Homo sapiens: one gene and its partners. The protein of the gene in region 2 purifies or fractionates together with the protein of the main gene of each other region. This does not show direct contact. Each region holds a gene or a part of one and is shown on either strand. Other genes may lie near its edges.

Region 1 (7,039 bases), on a different chromosome or scaffold from region 2:
TCTGGTTTTATTTTAATGAAGAAAACATCAATAATTTGAATATTGATACGTCAGGCAGAAATAAGCACCTAACAATTCCTTCATCAAGCCTATCATAGTTTTATGTCCATTTTATATTTTGTTGACACTCAATGTGATTGGATCTGTACCTGCTTTTAGCACTACTTCAACTGGAGCCAAAGATCTTACAATCAGTAGTAGCTCCCAACCTTTTCTATGTATCAAAATCATGCGGGCAACTTTTAAAACAACACTACATTCCAGTTCAACTGGTCTGCTATGGGAACAGGGGTGTATTGTTTCATAAAGCATCCTATGTCATCACAAGGTGTAGTCAAGGTGTCTAAGGGCAAAGATGGCCTATGGAGTGCTAAACTAAACGTCCCCAAACAGAATGTGTGTTGGTATTAAGGATTTACTGGACATATGGAATGGTATGTAGGTTAGTTTTCCTTTAAATTTTCAACCTTAAAGAGATACATAAATATCTATAGATGAAAAAAACAGATTTGCTTCAAAATAACTTAGGGGATTAGATGAGGGGAAGAAGAAATACTGGCCACATACTGACAAATTATTTATACACAGTAACAGATACGCTAGCATCCATTATTGAAGGCTCAACTTTTTTTTTTTTTTTTTTTAAGACAGTTTCACTCTTGCCCAAGCTGGAGTGCAATAACACAAACTTGGCTCACTGCAACTTCCGCTTCCCGGGTTCAAGCGATTCTCCTGCCTCAGCCTTCTGAGTAGCTGGGATTATAGGCGCCCACCACCACACATGGCTAATTCTTGCATTTTTAGCAGAGACAGGGTTTCGCCATGTTGGCCAGGCTGGTCTCGAACTCTTGACCTCAGGTGATCCACCCACCTCGGACTTCCAAAGTGCTGTGATTACAGGCATGAGCCACCGTGCCTGGCCAAGTCATTCAAATTTAATGTCACCAAAAATCGGTATGAAATTGGGAAATTAAATCAACCAAGTAAACAGGTGTGATGAGTCCACATAAGCGCCTGACTCCGATTCAGGTCACACCATCCACTTGTCGTCTCTTTTGTATCTTTTATAATGCCTGCCTCATTTTTAATCAAAGGGGTGGCCACATAAACAGGCTTTCTGATTCTGTGGCTTACTAGTGAGTAAACTTACAGCTGCCCTCCCCCAAGTCTAAATAGTAAACTGATTATTATCAAGTCCAAATTCAAACAAAGCCACCTTGATAGGACTTACCTGAAAGATATTTGAAATGGCATCCAGGATAACCAGAATAATCTTGGTATCTTTTGCAGTTAAGAGGTTCATCAACGGTTCTATTATGCCACAGTGAACAAGGTACACAATCTGTTCAACTGTTCCACCACTGGTATAGTTGGTCACGGCCCACACAGCTTCCTTTTGTGTCTTAAAATCTGCCTATTAAACATAAGGAAATGGTTTTATTTCAGAACAGTTGCACAAATAAGATTCCAAGAGTACTTTTTCACAAAAACAATGACTGAAAGTACCAAGGTTCTATCCAACCTTAAGTAAAAGGGGTTACTGGGTATTGTTCAGCAAAGGACTCCTAGTAGAACCCAAGATTCTTGCACGTGAAGAAGCTTATCAAGCACAGCTTTCTATAAATACTAAAAATGACTTGATTAAATCCTAAGACTTCGTTACCTTAGAGAGAACACTGACAAGGAATGGGACTAATCCATGATTCACAACTTGCTGTATCTGGTCCTGGCGGCCGGCTGTGATGTTTGACATTGTCCACGTAGCTTCCTTCTGAATGTTAGTTTTGGGGTTGGTGAGCAGGCTGGGAAAGACGGCGAGTGCTCCTGCATCAATCACAACCTGAGTCTGTTCATCTGTACCAGTGACAATATTCCCTATGGCTCTTAGGGCAGGAGTCTGAAAAAAAAAAAATATGTTGATGCTGGTTATTTTTTCCCCAGCACTTTAGAAATTCTATACCCTAAAAGTTTTAACAAGAGGCCCATCATGGCCTGAAATAGGCAATATTTCAATATTACTATCAACTGATTATGCTTTTTTTTTTTTTTTTGAGAGACTGGAGTATAATGGCACGATTTCGGGTCACTGCAGCCTCTGCCTCCCAGATTCAAGCAATTCTCCTGCCTTAGCCTCCCGAGTAGTTGAGATTACAGACACGTGCCACCATGTCCAGATAATTTCTTTGTATTTTTAGTAGAGATGGGCTTTCACAATGTTGGCCAGGCTGGTCTCGAACTCCTGACCTCAGGTGATCCACCTGCCTTGGTCTCCCAAAGTGCTGGGATTACACAGGTGTGAGCCACCACTACCACGCCCAGCCCTGATCATGCTTCTTATACTTATGTCCTAATCTACAAGTAAATAACTTACCACAATTGGCAATTCAGAAGCTCCTAGAAGCTTCACAAGTTGGGGCACAACTCCTGTTTTCACCACCATGCCAATTCGTTCATTTGGACCATCAGTAAGGTAGGAAATAGCCCAGCAGGTATCTGCTAATACTTCTGGATCATCATGATGCAGGAGCCGAACTAAGGTAGGAAGAATCTGCTCAACAGCATCTATCGGGGGTGCAGGATTCTTGTTGCGGCAAAGATTAGAAAGTGTCCAGGTAAGATTACGTAAGTAGCCACACTGGGGGAAAAAAAATAGGCAATGAGAGGTTCTGTCTTTTGAGAAGATGGGGGAAATTAGAATGAAGAAGTGAGTAACTTTACTCATGTTAGTAACTTACTGCTAAAGATGACATATCAGGAACTGCAAGGAGAGCCAACAGTGGGTCAACTGCACCGTACTTAATAACCAAGTCTCGGAACACTGAGCCATCACCTGAAAAAAAAGGCAAGATTAATTTTTTTTTTTTTTTTTTTGAGACGGAGTTTCTCTCTGTCGCCCAGGCTGGAGTGCAGTGGCGCGATCTCGGCTCACTGCAAGCTCCGCCTCCTGGGTTCAAGCCATTCTCCTGCCTCAGCCTCAGGCGCCCGCCGCCACGCCCGGCTAATTTTTTGTATTTTTAGTAGAGGTGGGGTTTCACTGTGTTAGCCAGGATGGTCTCAATCTCCTGACCTCATGATCCACCCGCCTCTGCCTCCCAAAGTGCTGGGATTACAGGCGTGAGCCACCATGCCCGGCCGAGGCAAGATTAATTTTATTACCTTGTCCAACACCATCAATTTTCAGTGACTGAATGCACCAGCAAAAACTCCCAAACTTACTTAGATGGCCCTCTGCTGCCTTTGTAAAGACGACACTTTCATTCCTAATAAGGGCTTGAAAGCAAGCTCAAAACTTGACAAAGTCACTATTACTTATAACAAGGCCTTTCTTCCAACTAATTACGATTAGATACATTCAGTCAAAAGAACTTCAAGTCCAAGTACCTGCAATGTTTCCTAGAGCCCAGACAGCTTGTTCACTGATGTGAGCATGGGGAGATGCCAACAGAGAAATGAATGCTGGGATGGCACCTCCATCTACCACAGCCTTGGTTTGTTCTGATGTCCCAGAAGCAATGTTAGTGAGTGCCCAAGCAGATTCAAACTGAATGGGACTACAATCAGTTCTGCCCAAGAAGGACACAAATTTCGGAATCAAACCAGCCCGGATTATGTTGTCTATGGGGGGCTGTTTTTCTCTGGAAAGTAGTTTCCTAAAGGGGAACAAAAAGAGAAATAAAAGTTGACAGTGATTAACAAAAGGAGTTTGTGTAAAAACCAATATAAAATGCAATTCAAGAGTTTAGAACTTCAGACAACCTTTTAAGTAAATCACTAAATGCTGAGACATTCTGGAACCTAAGAGAAGCTGAACAGATTACTTGTATGGTGCTATGTATGCGGTATAATTAACTACCATTTTTCCAGAAATTAATGTAGATTACCCTCCTTTCCATCCCTGCAGAAATCTACTCCAGATCTTGTCACTTTTTAAAAAAACTTTTCACATTCTGACAGGGTTATACTCTCACTGAATTTGTTCTGATAGTTGTGGTTAAGCACATTTTGTTTTTTTGAAATAGGATCTCACTCCACTCAGGCTAGAGTGCAGTGCCACGATCACAGCTCACTGCAGCCTCGACCTCCTGGGCTCAAGTGATCCTCCCACCTCAGCCTCCTTAGTAGCTGGGACGACAAGTGTGCACCGCCACACCCAAGTTATTTTATTTATTTATTTTTTGAGACAGAGTCTTGCTCTGTCGCCATGCTGGAATGCAGTGGCAAGATCTCAGCTCACTGCAACCTCCGCCTGCTGGGTTCAAGTGATTATTGTGCCTGAGCCTCCCAAACACGTGAGATTACAGGCATGTGCCACCACACCCAGCTAATAATTTCTTTTGTAGAAACTGGCTCTCACCATGTTGCCCAGGCTGGTCTCAAACTCCTGGGCTCAAGTAACCGACCCCTTGGCCTCCCAAAGTGCTGGGATTACAGGAATGAGCCACAGCACCCAGCCTAGAACTTTTTAATGATAATTTACCATTGAAATTTTTCTTCTGCACACTGTCAAGCTATAGAACTTATTAATCCTTTCTATTATATCATAAATATCCACGTATAGTGGGAGGTAAAGGTCAAATTATACTTATCTCCTAAATGGATCTATCATTCTAAATGCATGTCTCAATCCCACTTACTATTTATTTCTTCCTTCCCCTGCCAGTGACTTGAAACATTACTTTGGTAAAAACTTTATGGGCAGGTGCAATGGCACACACCTGTGATCCCAGCACTTCAGGAGGCTGAGGTCAGAGGACTGCTTGAACCCAGGCATTCCAGGCCAGCCTGGGCAAAATAGCAAGGCCTCCCCTCTCAAAAAAATTAATAAATAAAAAATACTATTTGGCTTATGGCTGGCTGGCCTAATCTTTCCTTGTACTATCTGTCTGTCCCTTCCTGCCCCACCCCCCAAAAAAAAATCTAAAAACACAAATTTCTTAGGCTACCCATGCTATCGCAGACAAGACTTACCTGGCAGCTTGAGTAGCTTGGAGCTGATTTTCCACATTGCTGCTATTTATGCCTTTGACAATGTCATCAACAGACCAATTTACAGTGCCCTAGAAGAAAAGTGAAAGTTTGCACATTATCATTAAGATTAAATACAAACAATAAAATCCACACTTACTTGTGAAGGCAAGTGTAAACATCGTTAGGCTTATAGCCAGCTACTAAATATTTAGCCCTACATTTAATTTTGCCTGTTAAATATTCATTATTTTATATGTAGAACAGTTTCCAAACTTGTTGTCATGGACTCACTGGAGTCTCAAGTTATGGAGTATCCAAGTGTTTTGTCGCTAAAAAAGGCAGCTTTGAACAATTTTAAAAAATGAACGAGAAGGACAGGCATGGTGGCTCACACCTGTAAGCCTAGCACTTTGGGAGGCTCAGGAGGGAGGATGGCTTGAGCTCAGGTGAGACCAGCCTGAGCAACACAGTGAGACCTCCCAACAAAAAAAAAAAAAAAAAAAAAATATCCAGGCATGGTGGTGTTTGCCTGTCGCCATACAAGACCTTGTCTCAAAAATCAAGAATCAGAGCAGACTGAAGATTATTTCTACGTTAGTCTCAATCACTTGCATTCAGATATACTTTGAGGGAGAAAGACATGAAGTCATAGGCAACGTTCTGAGGATTTTCTTTTCTTTTTTTTTTTGAGACGGAGTTTCACTCAATCCCCAGGCTGGAGTGCAGTGGCATGATCTTGGCTCACCACCACCTCCGCCTCCTGGGTTCAAGCGATTCTCCTGCCTCAGCCTCCCAAGTACCTGAGATTATAGGCATGCGCCACCATGCCTGGCTAATTTTTTTTTTTTGTATTTTTAGTAGAGACGGGGTTTCTCCATGTTGGTCAGGCTGGTCTCGAACTGCCAACCTCAGGTGATCCACCTGCCTCAGCCTCCCAAAGTGCTGGAATTACAGGCATGAGCTACCATGCCCGACTTTTTTTTTTGGAGACAGAGTTTTGCTCTTCTTGCCCAGGCTGGAGTGCAATGGCGTGATCTCGGCTCACCACCGCCTCCACCTCCCGGGTTCAAGCGATTCTCCTGCCACAGCCTCCTGAGTAGCTGGGATTACAGGCATGCGCCACGATGCCCAGCTAATTTTGTATTTTTAGTAGAGATGGAGTTTCTCCATGTTGGTCAGGCTGGTCTCAAACTCCCGACCTCAGGTGATCCACCTGCCTCGGCCTCCCAAAGTAATGGGATTACAGGTGTGAGCCACCACACCCGGCCGAGGATTTTCATATCTAATTTTATAATCTACATATTTCCACGGTTAAGTGTTGCTGCAAATATAAATGGTTTATGTTTGGCTGGGCGAAGTGGCTCGCGCCTGTAATCCCAGCACTTTGGGAGGCCGAGGCGGGTGGATCACCTGAGGTCAGGAGTTCGAGACCAGACTGGGAAACACGGTGAATCCCCGTGTCTACTAAAAATGCAAAAATTAGCTAGACATCGTGGTGATCCCCTGTGATCCCAGCTACTTGGGAGGCTGAGGCAGGAGAGTCACTTGAACCCAGGAGACGGAGGCTGCAGTCAGCCAAGATCGTACCACTGCACTCCAGCCTGGGCAACAAACCAAGGTTTTGTCTCAAAACAAAAAAAAAAGGAAGCATATTGTGAGAAAAACATGTAGGAAAGGGCCCAGATGAAAGATAAATTTGAAAATCTAAGTTAAGTCTACTTTATGGAAGGCCTTCATAGAGTAGGGATTTCTTAGAGACAGGGTCTCACTGTCACCCAGCATGGGGTGCAGTGGTGCAATCACAGCTCACTGCAGCCTCAAAATCCCGGGCTCAAGTGATTCTTCTGTCTCAGCCCCCTGAATACCTAGGACTAAAGGCCGGCGCCACCACACCCAGCTAACTTTACTTTTTATAGAGACGAGGTCTTCCTATGTTGCCTAGGCTGGGCTCAAACTCCTGGCCTCCAGTGATCCTCCCATTTCAGCTTCCCAAAGTGTTGGAATTACAGGCATGAACCACCATGCCCAGCTGGAGTATGGATTTATTTTATTTTTATTTTTTTCCTTGAGA
Region 2 (7,039 bases):
TGGATTGCCTGAGCTCAGGAGTTTGAGACCAGCCTGGGCAACATGGTGAAACCCCATCTGTACTTAAAAAAAAATATGAAAAATTAGCTGGGCGTGGCAGCATGCGCCCATTGCCCCAGCTACTCGGGAGGCTGAGGGAGGAGAATTGCTTGAACTCGGGAGGCGGAGGTTGCAGTGAGCCAAGATTGTGCCACTGCACTCCAGCCTGGGCGACAGCGAGACTCTGACTCAAGAAAAAAAGAAAAGAAACAAAACAAAACAGTATGTATTAGAGGCAAGGTAGGTAAACATTTCCTGAGAACTTGGTGCATTCTTTTTGTTTGAAATTGACCGTAAGTATTTGGCACAGTATGGCTCTAGAGAAAGGTTTCTCAGCTTTGGAACTTTGAGACTTTGGGCCAGATAATTATCGTGGGGGCTCTGTTGTATATTGTAGGATATTTAGCAACATTCCTACCTCTACCCATTAGATACCCATAACACATCCTCTGCAGGTTGTAACGATCAGGAATGTCTGAAGAAATTGTCAGAATTGCCCTTGATTGAGACTACTACTTTAGTGAAAATATTTCACATGTATTTATTTATTTATTTATTTTTTGAGACAGAGTTTCGCTCTTGTTGCCCCGGCTGGAGTGCAATGATGTGATCTTGGCTCACCGCAACCTCCGCCTCGTGGGTTCAAGCAATTCTCTTGCCTCAGCCTCCCGAGTAGCTGGATTACAGGTGCGTGCCACCACACCCAGCTAATTTTGTATTTTTAGTAGAGACAGGCTTTCACCATGTTGGCCAGGCTGATCTGGAACTCGTGACCTCAAGCAATCCACCCGCTTTGGCCTCCCAAAGTGCTGGGATTACAGGCGTGAGCCACCATGCCCAGCCATAATTACCACATTGAGGAATTTGTACTTAATTCAGTGTAATGGGAAATACTTGCAGTTTTTTTTAGTAAGGAAAGAAAAATTCTTAAAAATATAGTGGTAGCTGGCCGGGTGTGGTGGCTCACACCTGTAATCCAGCACTTTGGGAGGCTGAAGCGGGTGGATCACAAGGTTAGGAGTTTGAGACCATCCTGGCTAATATGGTGAAACCCTGAATCTACTAAAAATAGAAAAATTAGTTGGGCACAGTGACACGCACCTGTAGTCCCAGCTACTGGGAGGCTGAGGCAGAGAATCGCTTGAACCCAGGAGGCAGAGGTTGCAGTGAGCGCAGATTGCACCACTGTGCTTCATCCTGGGTGACAGAGCAAGACTCCATATCATAAAAAGAAGACCTCTAAATGTACCAGTCTTTGCATTCTGACATATATTATGTTGTTTTGTTTGAAGTATGTGAAGAAAATCTAGCCTCATACAGATACATAGTTGGAAAAGAGAGGAGTATTTTAATGGCCTTTTCAGATAATTCTAACTGCTCTTTGACACTACAGTCAAACCTTTTTATTTGTTTGTTTTTTTGAGACGGAGTCGTGCTCTGTCGCCCAAGTCGGAGTGCAGTGGCGCTATCTCAGCGTACTCCAACCTCCGCCTCCCAGGTTCAAGCAATTCTCCTGCCTCAGCCTCCTGAGTTGCTGGGACTACAGGTGCACATCACCACGCTGGGCTAATTTTTTGTATTTTTAGTAGAGACGGGGTTTCGCCATGTTGGGTTTGAACTCCTGGCCTCAAGTGATCCGCCTGCCTTGGCCTCCCAAAGTGCTGGGATTTCAGACGTGAGCCACCGTGCCCGGCCTCAAACCTTTTTAAAGGTTCATTACAGTATGGAATCTGAAACTGTGTCATTGAACTTTTGTATTCTGTTGTATTAAAAACCATTGGTCTGTGTTGTACTTTGAATAGACCTTTACACTTCTGTGATTTTATAACATGATGCATGTTGATTTTGAAATTATTGATTTACTGAGTTATGCAGATCTTCTTTTTTTGTTGTTTTTTTGTTTGTTTGTTTCTTTGTTTTTGAGACAGAGTCTTGCTTTGTCACCCAGGCTGGAGTGTTGTGGCACAATCTTGGCTCACTGTAACCTCTGCATTCCGGGTTCAGGTGATTCTCATGCCTCAGCCTCCTGAGTAGCTGGGACTACAGGTGTGTACCACCACATCTGGCTAATTTTTGTATTTTTTGTAGAGACGGGGTTTCAACATGTTGACCATGGCTGGTCTGGAACTCCTGACATCAAGTGATCTTCCCGTCTCGGCCTCCTAAAGAGCTGGCATTACAGGCATGAGCCCCATAGGCCTGGCCCAGATATTCCAGATGTTGACAAATTTAATTATACAGTTGTTTCTGTTTCCACCCATCTCATCAGATAAGTCTTTTTAAGAATTGAGAAGCTTATGACCTGATAGTGGTGAATACATGTTTTTTTTTTTTTTTTTTTTTTTTTTTTTTTGAGATGGAGTTTCACTCTGTCACCTGGGCTGGAGTGCAGTGGCACGATCTCGGCTTATTGCAAGCTCCACTTCCCGGGTTCACGCCATTCTCCTGCCTCATCCTCCCGAGTAGCTGGGAATACAGGGGCGTGCCACCATGCCCGGCTAATTTTTTGTATTTTTAGTAGAGATGGGGTTTCACCGTGTTAGCCAGGAAGGTCTCGATCTCCTGACCTCGTGATCCGCTCACCTCCGCCTCCCAAAGTCCTGGGATTACAGGCATGAGCCGCTGCGCCCAGCCGAATGCATGTTTTTGTAGTTGTAATTTTTGTATCAAAATTTTTTTTTTTTTTTTTTTAGATGTAGTCTCACTCTGTCGCCTAGGCTGGAGTGCAGTGTCGTGATCTCGGCTCACTGTAACCTCGCCTCCTGGGTTCAAGCAATTCTCCTGCCTCAGCCTCCTGAGTAGCTGGGATTACAGGCAGGTGCCACCACACATGGCTAATTTTTGTATTTTTAGCAGAGACAGGGTTTCATCATGTTGGTCAGGCTGGTCTTCAACTCCTGACCTCGTGATCTGTCTGCCTCGGTCTCCCGAAATGCTGGGATTATAGGCATGAGCCACCATGCCCAGCCTTTCTTTTTTTTTTTTTTTTTTTTTTTTTGAGACGAGGTCTCGGTCTTTCCCCCAGGCTGGAGTACAATGGTGGGATCTCAACTCACTGCAACCTCCGCCTTCTGGGTTCCACTGATTCTCCTGTCTCCGCCTCCCAAGTAGCTGGGATTACAGGCGTCCACCACCATGCCTGGCTAATTTTTTGTATTTTTAGTAGAGATGAGGTTTCACCATGTTGGCCAGGCTGGTTTTGAACTGCTGACTTCAAGTGATCCACCTGCCTCGGCCTCCCAAACTGCTAGGATTACAGGTGTGAGCCACCATGCCCAGCCAGTACCAAATCTTAATAACCATAGTTTGTCAATCATTCTTTGAAATTAAAATGGTGGGCGGGGCGCAGTGGCTCACGCCTGTAATCCCAGCACTTTGGGAGGCTGAGGGGGGCGGATCACAAGGTCAGGAGATCGAGACCATCCTGGCTAACACGGTGAAAACCCGTCTCTACTAAAAATACAAAAAATTAGCTGGGCGTGGTGGCGGGCGCCTGTAATCCCAGTTACTCGGAAGGCTGACGCAGGAGAATGTCGTGAACCTGGGAGGCAGAGCTTGCAGTCAGCCGAGATTGCGTCACTTCACTCCAGCCTGGGCAACAGAGCCAGACTCTGTCTCAAAAAAAAAAAAAAATTAAAATGGTGTTCCATGAGAAAAACAACTACATTTAGCTTTCAAAAGTAATTACAGGTGGTTTGCCCCTTGATATCCTTTGTATTTCAGTAAGCAGAAGTTTTTGAGTATTTCCCAATACTGAATTAAAAAGAATTGTGCTGTAGTGTTGAGAAATAATACAACTAATAATTTTTGCTGCTTCATTAAGGACCCTTTTAAGTGAAAGTGGAATTTTTTATATTGTAAATGGGTGACAGTGAAGAATTCAGTGAGTGTTAGTTCAGCACCATTTGGGGTTGTTGCTTTGATTCATGCTGAGTTCCCAGCATTTTTGCACACCATTGATTTTGCACATCAGCACAGAGGTCAGAACAGTAAAGAAAAAGGGCAAAGTGTCTTAGTTTTATTGTGAAAATGGTTTTGATTTCATTGAACCCCTGGAAGAAGTGTTGGGGACTTTTAGGGGTCTTTGGGTCACACTTTGAGAACCACTAATCTAGAACAATATTTCACATTGGTTCATAGAGCCCTAAGCTGCTTCATAGGGCAGAGCTGGTGGGGTTCTACTGTACCTACTCCCTCTTCACTTCAGCCAGAGCAGCTTCTGCTTATGTCTGTTTTATATGTCGGGTTTCATGGCTAAAAAATATTTGAAAATCATTAGTCAAGGGGAAAAGAATTGAGCACCTGAATTAGGGCTGGTCTGTTCGTGAAGGGAACAGTTCATCCTCAGTAAATGTTACAGTCACTCATCACTTCACATCTTTAATTTTACTTCGTTTGACACAGAGCTTACTAGTATTTGCACACTCAACCTTCTTGATAGGTAAATGGGGCTGTGTGCCGTGGCTCACGCCTGTAATGCTAGCACTTTGGGAGGCTGAGGTGGGCGGATCACGAGGTCGGAAGATCGAGACCATCCTGGCCAACTTGGTGAAACCCCATGTCTACTAAAATACAAAAAATTAACCCGGTATAGTGGTGGGTGCCTGTAGTCCCATCTTCTCGAGAGGCTGAGGCAGGGAAATCGCTTGAACCCAGGAGGCAGAGGTTGCAGTGAGCTGAGATCATGCCACTGCACTGCACTCCAGCCTGGCAACAGAGCAAGACTGTCTCAAAAAAATAAATAAATAAAAAATAAGTAAATGGGCCTGGCACAGGGGCTCACCTATAATCCCTGCACTTTAGGAGGCCAAAGCAGGAAGATGGCTTGAGTCCAGGAGTTAGAGACCAGCCTGGGCAACATAGTGGCACATGCCTGTGGTCTCAGCTTTTTGGGAGGCTAAAGTGGGAGGATCAGTTGAACCCAGGAGGTCCAGGCTGCAGTGAGCCATGATCATGCCACTGCATTCCAGCCTGGGCAACAGAGTGAGACCTTGTCTCAAAACAAAAACCAAAAAAAAAAAAAAAAAAAAGAAATAGGTAAATGAATTTGTAAATTAAAAAGATGGATAGTTGGGAATAAAGACAGAGATGTGAGATAGATGGAAGAGGTTGAATGATCATAGTAATCTCAATATATTGTGTTTGTGCAGGGATGGGATTTGTTTTTGTTTGCAGTGGTGCTTTATGCTTGTGCTGAGTGATCAGTGGATGACACTTAAGCATTGAGAAATAAGAAATTATGGCATTCTAGCTAGCCATTGAACCAAAGTTTAGAGTGAGGGGACATTTATTATGCTTTTTAAATTATAAATACCTGTAAAATACCTGTTGAAAAATAAACAAAATGCTGCTTTTGAGGAGCTCTAGTTTGAGGCAGCTTTGTCCTCCTACCAGTCTTTTGGTGTAGGCTGTACAATCCCTATTGTTCAGATGTAGAAATTGAGGTCTGAGAGATTGAATATTATGACTTACAGTAGCAAGTGGCAGAGGAATTTTTTATTTTTTTAACTTTTTATTTTGAATTAACTTTAGATTTTAAGAGTCAATGATGGTAACTGACAGGTTTTTTTTTGGTTGTTTTTTTGAGATGGAGTTTCACTGTTGTTATCCAGGCTGGAGTGCAGTGGCACGATCTCGGCTCACTGCAATCTCTGCCTCCTGGGTTCAAGCGATTCTCCTGCCTCAGCCTCCCGAATAGCTGGGATGACAGGCATGCGTCACGACAACTGGCTAATTATGTATTTTTTAGTAGAGACGGGGTTTCTCCTTGCTTCTCAGGCTGGTCTTGAACTCCCGACCTCAGGTGATCCGCCCACTTTGGGCCTCCCAAAATGGTGCGATTACATGCGTGAGCCACCGTGCCCAGCCTTATACAGTGATTCTTAATAGTTAGGTATATATCCTTTCACTTTTAGAAATTTATTTATTTATTTATTTTTGGAGACAGAATTTCACTCTTGTCACCCAGGCTGTAGTGCAGTGGCGCAATCTGGGCTCACAGCAACCTCCACCTCCCAGGTTCAAGCAGTTCTCCTGCCTCAGCCTCCTGAGTAGCTGGGATTACAGGCATGTAGGCTAATTTTTGTATTAGTAGAGACAGGGGGTTTCACCATGTAGGCCAGGCTGGGCTCGAACTCCTGAGCTCAGGTGATCCACCAGCCTTGGCCTCCCAAAGTGTTGGGATTGCAGGTGTGAGCCACCGCGCCTAGCCGAGTGACAGTTTTAAATACAGATGTCTCACACCAAAGCTAATATACTCTTCACTCTAAAATGATTAGGGTTATGTTAAGGGGATGAAAAAAATGCTGCTCAGTGCTATTAGGAAGGAGCTTATGTAAGATGCTATGGACTATTTAAAATTAATTTACACCCAGTGAGCAAAGTCAAGACATTTTTTTTACCCAGAGCAGCAGACAGGTAAAACACTCAGGTGGCAGGTATAATAACAAATATATTGCATAACTAAAAGCAGCTGAGAGACACTAGTTTACGTAATCGGGGTTGGAAAGGAAGAGGGGAAGTAAAGTGTTTTATTTTTTTTGAGATGGACTCTGGCTCCGTCGCCAGGCTGGAGTGCAGTGGCCCGATCTCGGCTCACTGCAACCTCCGCCTCCTGGATTCAAGTGATTCTCCTGCCTCAGCCTCCCAAGTAGCTGGGACTAGAGGCACACACCACCATGCCCAGCTAATTTTTGTATTTTCAGTAGAGACGGGGTTTCACCATGTTGGCCAGGATGGTCTCGATCTCTTGACCTCGTGATCTGCCCGCCTCTGCTTCCCGGAGTGCTGGGATTACAGACATGAGCCACCGTGCCCGGCCTTTAAAGTGTTTTTATACTAATAAAGAGTTTAAGGGTGTGCGGCAGTCTTGTGAAAGCAGGTGAGGCTTGAGCAACAATTTTTAGGAAGAAAAGGAGATACGATTTTTAGAGAGGGTATGATGTTCTTTTTTTTTGTTTGAGACAGCGTCTTGCTCTGTTACCCAGGCTGGAATGATCTT
Region 3 (7,039 bases), on a different chromosome or scaffold from region 2:
ATACTCAACATTCCATCTTGGCCACCAGTAGCTACAACATGCTGTTGGTTGGGATGTCTATCAACACAGTGGAGTGGCACTCGGTCACCAGTCCTTTTGTGGGAGATAACAATGACGTCAAAATCAAATAAAGTATAATTTATCTTTGTGTAACACAGGAAACACGTTTTTTGTTTGTTTTGAGACAAGGCCTCACTTACCCAGGCTGGAATGCAGCGCTGCAATCATTGCTTACTGTAGGCTCAAACTCCCTGGGCTCAGGTATCCTCCCACCTCAGCCTCCTGAGTTGCTGGGAGTACATGTGTGTACCATCATGCCTGGTTAACTTTTTGTATTTTTGTAGAGATGGGGTTTCTCCATGTTGCCCAGGTTGGTCTCAAACTCCCAGGCTCCAGTGATCTAGCCACCCTGGCCTTCCAAAGTGCTGGGATGACTGGTAACCGTGCCCAGCCTGTTTTTTTTTGTTTATTTTTTAAGAGACCAGGCTCAGTGGCTCACACCTGTAATCCCAGCACTTTGGGAGGCCAAGGCAGGTGGATGACTTGAGGTTCAAGACCAACCAGGCCAAAATGGCGAAACCCCATCTCTACTAAAAATACAAAAACTAGCCAGGCATGGTGGCACATGCCTGTAGTTCCAGCTACTTGGGAGGCTGAGGCATGAGAATCGCCTGAACCCAGTAGGCAGAAGTTGCAGTGAGCCAAGATCATGCCACTGCACTCCAGCCTGGGTGACAGAGTAAGACTCTGTCTCAAAGAAAAAAAAAAAAAAGAGAGACAGGGTCTTGTCTTGTCACCCAGGCTACAGTGCAATGGCCTATCTACAGCTTGCTGCAAGCTGGGCTCAAAAGAGCCTTTTGCCTCAGCCTCCCAAGTAGCTAGGACTACAGGCACATGCTACCGTGCCAGGCTATTTTAAGAAATTTTGGTAGAGATGGGGTCTCACTGTGTTGCCCTAGCTGGTCTCAAACTTCTCACCGCAGATAATCCTTCCAAAATGTTGGGATTACAGGCATGAGTCACCATGCTCAGCCAAGAAACATGTTTTATATGGTAACTAAGTGTCAACTTAGTGGCTGGAGCTACTGGCTGAATCTTTTTTTTATTTGAGACAGAGTTTTGTTCTTGTTGCCCAGGCTGGAGTGCAATGGCACGATCTTAGCTCACTGCAAACTCTGCCTCCCAGGTTCAAGTGATTCTCCTGCAAACTCTGCCTCCCAGGTTCAAGTGATTCTCCTGCAAACTCTGGCTCCCAGGTTCAAGTGATTCTCCTGCCTCAGCCTCCTGAGTAGCGGGGTCTATAGGCACGTGCCACCATGCCTGGCTAGTTTTTGTATTTTTAGTAGAGACGGGGTTTCACTGTGTTGGCCAGGCTGGTATTGAACTCCTGACCTCAAGTGATCTGCCTGCCTCGGCCTCCCAAAGTGCTGGGATTACAAGCATGAGCAACCACGCCCAGCCTGGCTGAATCTTAATGATACCAAAAAAAATGAACTAAATTAGATATATTTCTAAATAGTACAATTTTGAAATAATTCAAGGCCACAATTATTCATTTTCACTTCAATTTGGAGACATGGAATGAAAGACAATCCGATGGTAAGATGTACAAATCACATTTCCACTTGTTAAATTATTTAAAAACTCATACATCAATTATATACTAAATATTATTTATCATCTTATTTAATGCTTAGTTTATGTAACTATTTTTTCAGTGTGACACATTCTATTTTCTTACGAGAGAACGTTGTACACCTACAAAGGGGGATTTCTGCTCAGAAAAAATATTTGGAATTATATTTTTCCCCCAATCATTACATCTGGAGTATATTTTATCCATTAAACAATCATTGAAAGAGCAGAAATAAGTTCTCCATGAAATAATACAAACTTCAAAGAGTAAAGGCTCTGAATCACTATAACAAATAATTACTAAATGAAGCATAGTAGTACCAACCCCGTCAAGTTATGCTTGCTCTACCAAATTTTAATCAGGGATCTCCCTCTTAAAATGCAATTAAAATTCAATATGGCTTAAAGCCAGTAGCTATAAACAACCTAACACATTAATTTGTGGATTACATTACTGAAATTACAAATCAACACTTACAGTGACAATATCTGAGAAGGCTCATTTCCTTGTTGTCTGAAATCCCATATTTTCAACTGTCCAATTGAATTTACAGTAAGAATCTCAGGAGTTCGAAGAAAGGTTACAGCATGGAGTGTACTACTATCTGCATTGTCTAAAAATTTAAAAAATGGTAGTATGTGTTAATGAGTCCCCTTTTTTTCCCAAGAAAATCTTAAATCACACTCCTTTCATGGATTGATATATTACAATTTCCAGTAACTTATAATTTAAATTTCTATAGAAAAATGCATGGTTAATGTATATGTTTAAATGGATTCTCTTTGGATGGGAAAAACATTTACTCACAGGACATCTGAACTGTTTTCTGTTTCTTTTTTTTTTTTTTGCTCGTTGCCCAGGCTGGACTGCAATGGCGCGATCTCGGCTCACCGCAATCTCCACCTCTCGGATTCAAGCTATTCTCCTGCCTCAGCCTCCCAAATAGCTGGGATTAGAAATGTGCCACCACACCCAGCTAATTTTGTATGTTTAGTAGAGACTGGGTTTCTCCATGTTGGTCAGGCTGGTCTCGAACTCCCGACCTCAGGTGATCCACCAGCCTCGGCCTCCCAAAATGCTGGGATTACAGGCTTGAGCCACCACGCCTGGCCTACTGTTTTCTTTTTCTTTTTGTTTTTTGAGATGGATCTCGCTCTGTCACCCAGGCTAGAGGGCAGTGGCGTACTCTGGGCTCACTACAACCTCCGCCTCCCAGGTTCAAGCGATTCTCTTGCCTCGGCCTCTCTAGTACCTGGGATTACAGGTACATGCCACCATGCCTGGCTAATTTTTGTATTTTTAGTAGAGACGGAGTTTCACCATGTTGGCCAGGCTGGTCTCGAACTCCTGAGCTCAGGTGATCCGCCTCACTCAGCCTCCCAAAGTGCTAGAATTACAGGCATGACCCACCAGGCCCAGCCTTGAACTGTTTTCTAAATGGAAGGCTGAGTTTTCATACATTTCTTTTTAACTCTTAAGATTGTTACCCTGCATTTCTGAGAGAGTTGTTCAAGCTCCTCTAAACCCAATCTTACTTCCCACTAGTCCCTGACCTAGAACTTCCATTCTATTGAGCCAAACTCCAGTGCTTCCTACAGAGCTCATTCTAACCTTGTATTATTCTGCAGACTCATCCCAAATCTACTCATTTTCACCCTCATCAACTCTCGCCCTCTCCATGAAGTCACTCCTTATTGTCATAATGGTCCTTTTTGTTGATTTCCTAGTGTTTAGAACTTATGCCTCATAATTTAACATATACTTTATGGACTTTAGTTTGTGCCACTCCTCTACACTGCCACCAGGCAATGGTCATTAATTAACAAATAAGTAATGTCGCCCAGTGCAGTGGGTCATGTCTGTAATCTCAGCACTTCGGGAGGCCGAGGTGGGCAGACCACTTGAGCCCAGGAGTTTGACACCAGCCTGGGCAACATGGTGAAACCTCGTTTCTACAAAAATTAGCTGGGCATGGTGGTGTGCATCTGTAGTCCCACATCCCTGGAAGGCTGAGGTGGGAGGATCGCTTGAACCTGGGAGGCAGAGGTTGCAATGAGCTGGGATCATGCCACTGCACTCCAGCCTGGGTGACAGAGCAAGACCCTGTCTCAAAAAAAAAAAAAAAAAAAAAAAAAGTAATGCAACTTAACTCAGAAATGAAAATCATAATAAACAACACAAAAGGCCAGGTACAGTGGCTCACGCCTGTAATCCCAGCACTTTGGGAGGCCGAGGCAGGCGAATGACAAAGTCAAGAAATCAAGACCATCCTGGCCAACATGTTGAAAGCCTGTCTCTACTAAAAATACAAAAATTAGGTGGGTGTGGTGGCGTGCGCCTGTAGTCCCAGCTCCTCGGGAGGCTGAGGCTGGAGAATCGCGTGAACCCAGGAGGTGGAGGTTGCAGTGAGCTGAGGTCGTGCCATTGCACTCCAGCCTGGTGACAGAGCGTGACTCCATCTAAACAAACAAACAAACAAAACACACACATACAAAATGGATTCATGGGCTCAATTCCTAGAGATTCTGATTTAAAAGGTCTAGAGTGGTCGACAGTTAAAAAATTTCCTCAGAGAAGTCTGGCTGAAGCATAGTTCAGAACCAATACACTTAGTTTTCCACCTAAAAGATGTAACTTCTGTGATTTTGCATTACAGACTCTTTGCAATCTGGCCCCAGCTTACTTCTCTCTTGCTTCATCTTTCATCTCTCCTAAATAAATATCTAAAGTCGGGTCAAACTATACTTTTTGTCATTCTCTGAATGTCTTTATCCTGCCTCTGGCCTATTCCCTTTGTCTAGCACGCCATCTTTTAGTATTACTTATGGTCTAGAACCTAGAAAAACTATTAATTACTACCTGCTTCCAGATGTTTTATCTGATAATGCCCTCTCACCAAAAAAAAAAAGGTTTCTGTTTCCTCTAGTCAGTCATTCATACTGGTCTCATCAACATACTGTCTTGACAAAGGGATCCTGCCTTGCGTTGTGTGTGCACATGTGTACATATATTTTATATTTTTTTGAGACAGAGTCTTGCTCTGTCACCCAGGCTGGAGTGCGGTGGCATGATCTCGGCTCACTGCAGCCTCTCAGTCTCTCAGGTTCAAGCGATTCTCATGCCTCAGCCTCCCAAGCAGCTGGGATTACAGGCCTGTGCCACCATGCCCAGCTAATTTTTGTATTTTTAGTAGAGATGGGGTTTTGCAATATTGGTCAGGCTGGTCTCAAACTCTTGGCCTCAAATGATCTGCTCGCCTTTGCCTCCTAAGGTGCTGGGATTATAGGCGTCAGCCACTGTACCCGGCCATATATTTTTACATCCCTCCATCACTTAACATTGTGTTTACTTTTTTTTTTTAGATGAAGTCTCTCTCTGTCACAAGGCTAGCGTGCAGTGGTGTAATCTTGGCTCACTGCAACCTCTGCCTCCCGGGTTTAAGTGATTCTCCTGCCTCAGCCTCCCGAGTAGCTGGGACTACAGATGCACACCACCTCACCCAGCTTATTTTTGTTATTTTCAGTAGAGACGGATTTTCACCACGTTGGCCAGGATGATCTTGATCGCTTGACCTTGTGATCCGCCTGCATCACCCTCCCAAAGTGCTGGGGTAACAGGCATGAGCCACCGTGCCTGGCAGTATTTACTTAGTATATGGTAAGTGCTCAATTACTCTGATGGATGAAAGGAGTACAATGATTTTTCTTTTTTTGAAACAGGGTCTCCCTCTGTCACCCAGGTGGGACTGCAGAGTGCCATCATAGCTCACCACAACCTCCACCTCTCAGGTTCAAGCGATTCTCCTGCCTCAGCCTCCTGAGTAGCTGGGATTACAGGCATGCGCCACCACGCCTGGCTAACTTTTCTTTTTTTTTTTTTAAACAGAGTTTCACTTTTGTTGCCCTGGCTGGAGTGCAATGGTGCGATCTCTGCTCACTGCAACCTCCGCCTCCCAGGTTCAAGCGATTCTCCTGCCTCAGCCTCCCAAGTAGCTGGGATTACAGGCATGTGCCACCATGCCCAGCAAATTCTGTAGTTTTAGTAGAGACGGTGTTTCTCCATGTTGGTCAGGCTGGTCTCGGACTCCCGACCTCAGGTGATCCACCTGCCTCGGCCTCCCAAAGTGCTGCAATTGCCGGGGTGAGCCACCACACCCAGCCTAACTTTTGTATTTTTAGAAGAGACTAGGTTTCGCCATGTTGGCCAGGCTGGGATTTTTCTTACCTATGGTTCTTACAGCTTCCTTGTGATCAGCTCTGAAGAGATTTATTCGACCATCCTCTCCAACTGTAACGATTTCTGGGTTGTTGCACACAACACCTGTACATGGTGCACTGCTATAGGAAGGACTGCCAGGGCCTGTGTGGTAGTGAGCTGTAGTCCACTGCTGGTTGACTGACAGAGTCTAGGCATCAGAAATGAGGATACTATTAAAGCAAAGTACTAAGGAATTAGCACTTCTTCCCAACAAGAGTATCTTTAAATTCTGACTCACACCCTTCTACAAGAATAAATCTCTCCTTTTTCCTTTAGAATAATGAAATCTAGAAACTACTGCCATCAAAGTTCTATATACACTGAATTAGATACAAAAGGAATATTGTTTAATAATGCCCCACATTTATCTCAAACTACAGTAATGACTTTTAGGGATCAAGCAGTTGGATGTTCAAAGGCAACTCTTTGTATTCTTATGGGAATTAACCTACATCTAAAATATACATATCTGGCCCACGGCTGTCGCTCATGCCTGTAATCCTAGCACTTTGGGAGGCCAAGGCAGGCAGATCATCTGAGATCAGGGGTTCGAGACCAGCCTGGCCAATATGGCAAAATCCCGTCTCTACTAAAAATACAAAAATTTGCTAGGTGTGGTGGCACGCGCCTGTAATCCCAGCTACTTGAAAGGCTGAGGTGTGAGAATTGCTTGAACCAGAGAGATGCAGGTTGCAGTGAGCAGAGATCGCACCACTGCACTCCAGCCTGGGTGACAGAGAGAGACTCTGTCTCAAAAAAAAAAATAAATAAATAAAATAAAATAAAATAAATAAAATATTAATCTCTATAGCTTTTTCTAAATGACTCAAAAAAACCCTTAACATGAACTGGGACTTATATTAACTAGGCATGTCTATTAGAAAAGGTTACCTTTGGCTGGGCGCGGTGGCTCACACCTGTAATCCCAGCACTTTGGGAGGCCGAAGAGGGCTGATCACCTGAGGTCAGGTGAGATCAGCCTGACCAACATGGAGAAACCCCGTCTCTACTAAAAATATAAAATTAGCCGGGCGTGGTGGCACGTGCCTGTAATCCCAGCTACTTGGGAGGCTGAGGCAGGAGAATCACTTGAACTCAGAAGGTGGAGGCTGCGGTGAGCCGAGACTGCGCCACTGCACTCCAGTG

What was found.
Region 1: the proteins of NUP98 (region 2) and KPNA2 purify together in Homo sapiens (affinity purification with western blotting, with the first as the bait; 2 studies listed by BioGRID). This does not show direct contact.
Region 3: the proteins of NUP98 (region 2) and NUP43 purify together in Homo sapiens (affinity purification with mass spectrometry; 6 studies listed by BioGRID and IntAct, with this or other methods). This does not show direct contact.

The regions. Positions count from the first base shown.
Region 1 is NC_000017.11:68,038,696-68,045,734, reverse strand, and holds part of KPNA2 (importin subunit alpha-1), read right to left. Parts: intron 5,058-7,039; coding exon 4,969-5,057; intron 3,651-4,968; coding exon 3,382-3,650; intron 2,831-3,381; coding exon 2,736-2,830; intron 2,636-2,735; coding exon 2,372-2,635; intron 1,898-2,371; coding exon 1,664-1,897; intron 1,415-1,663; coding exon 1,232-1,414; intron 1-1,231.
Region 2 is NC_000011.10:3,787,532-3,794,570, reverse strand, and holds part of NUP98 (nuclear pore complex protein Nup98-Nup96 isoform 1 precursor), read left to right. Parts: intron 1-7,039. UniProt on the Homo sapiens protein: Plays a role in the nuclear pore complex (NPC) assembly and/or maintenance. NUP98 and NUP96 are involved in the bidirectional transport across the NPC. May anchor NUP153 and TPR to the NPC.
Region 3 is NC_000006.12:149,736,530-149,743,568, forward strand, and holds part of NUP43 (nucleoporin Nup43), read right to left. Parts: intron 6,042-7,039; coding exon 5,861-6,041; intron 2,250-5,860; coding exon 2,114-2,249; intron 94-2,113; coding exon 1-93. UniProt on the Homo sapiens protein: Component of the Nup107-160 subcomplex of the nuclear pore complex (NPC). The Nup107-160 subcomplex is required for the assembly of a functional NPC.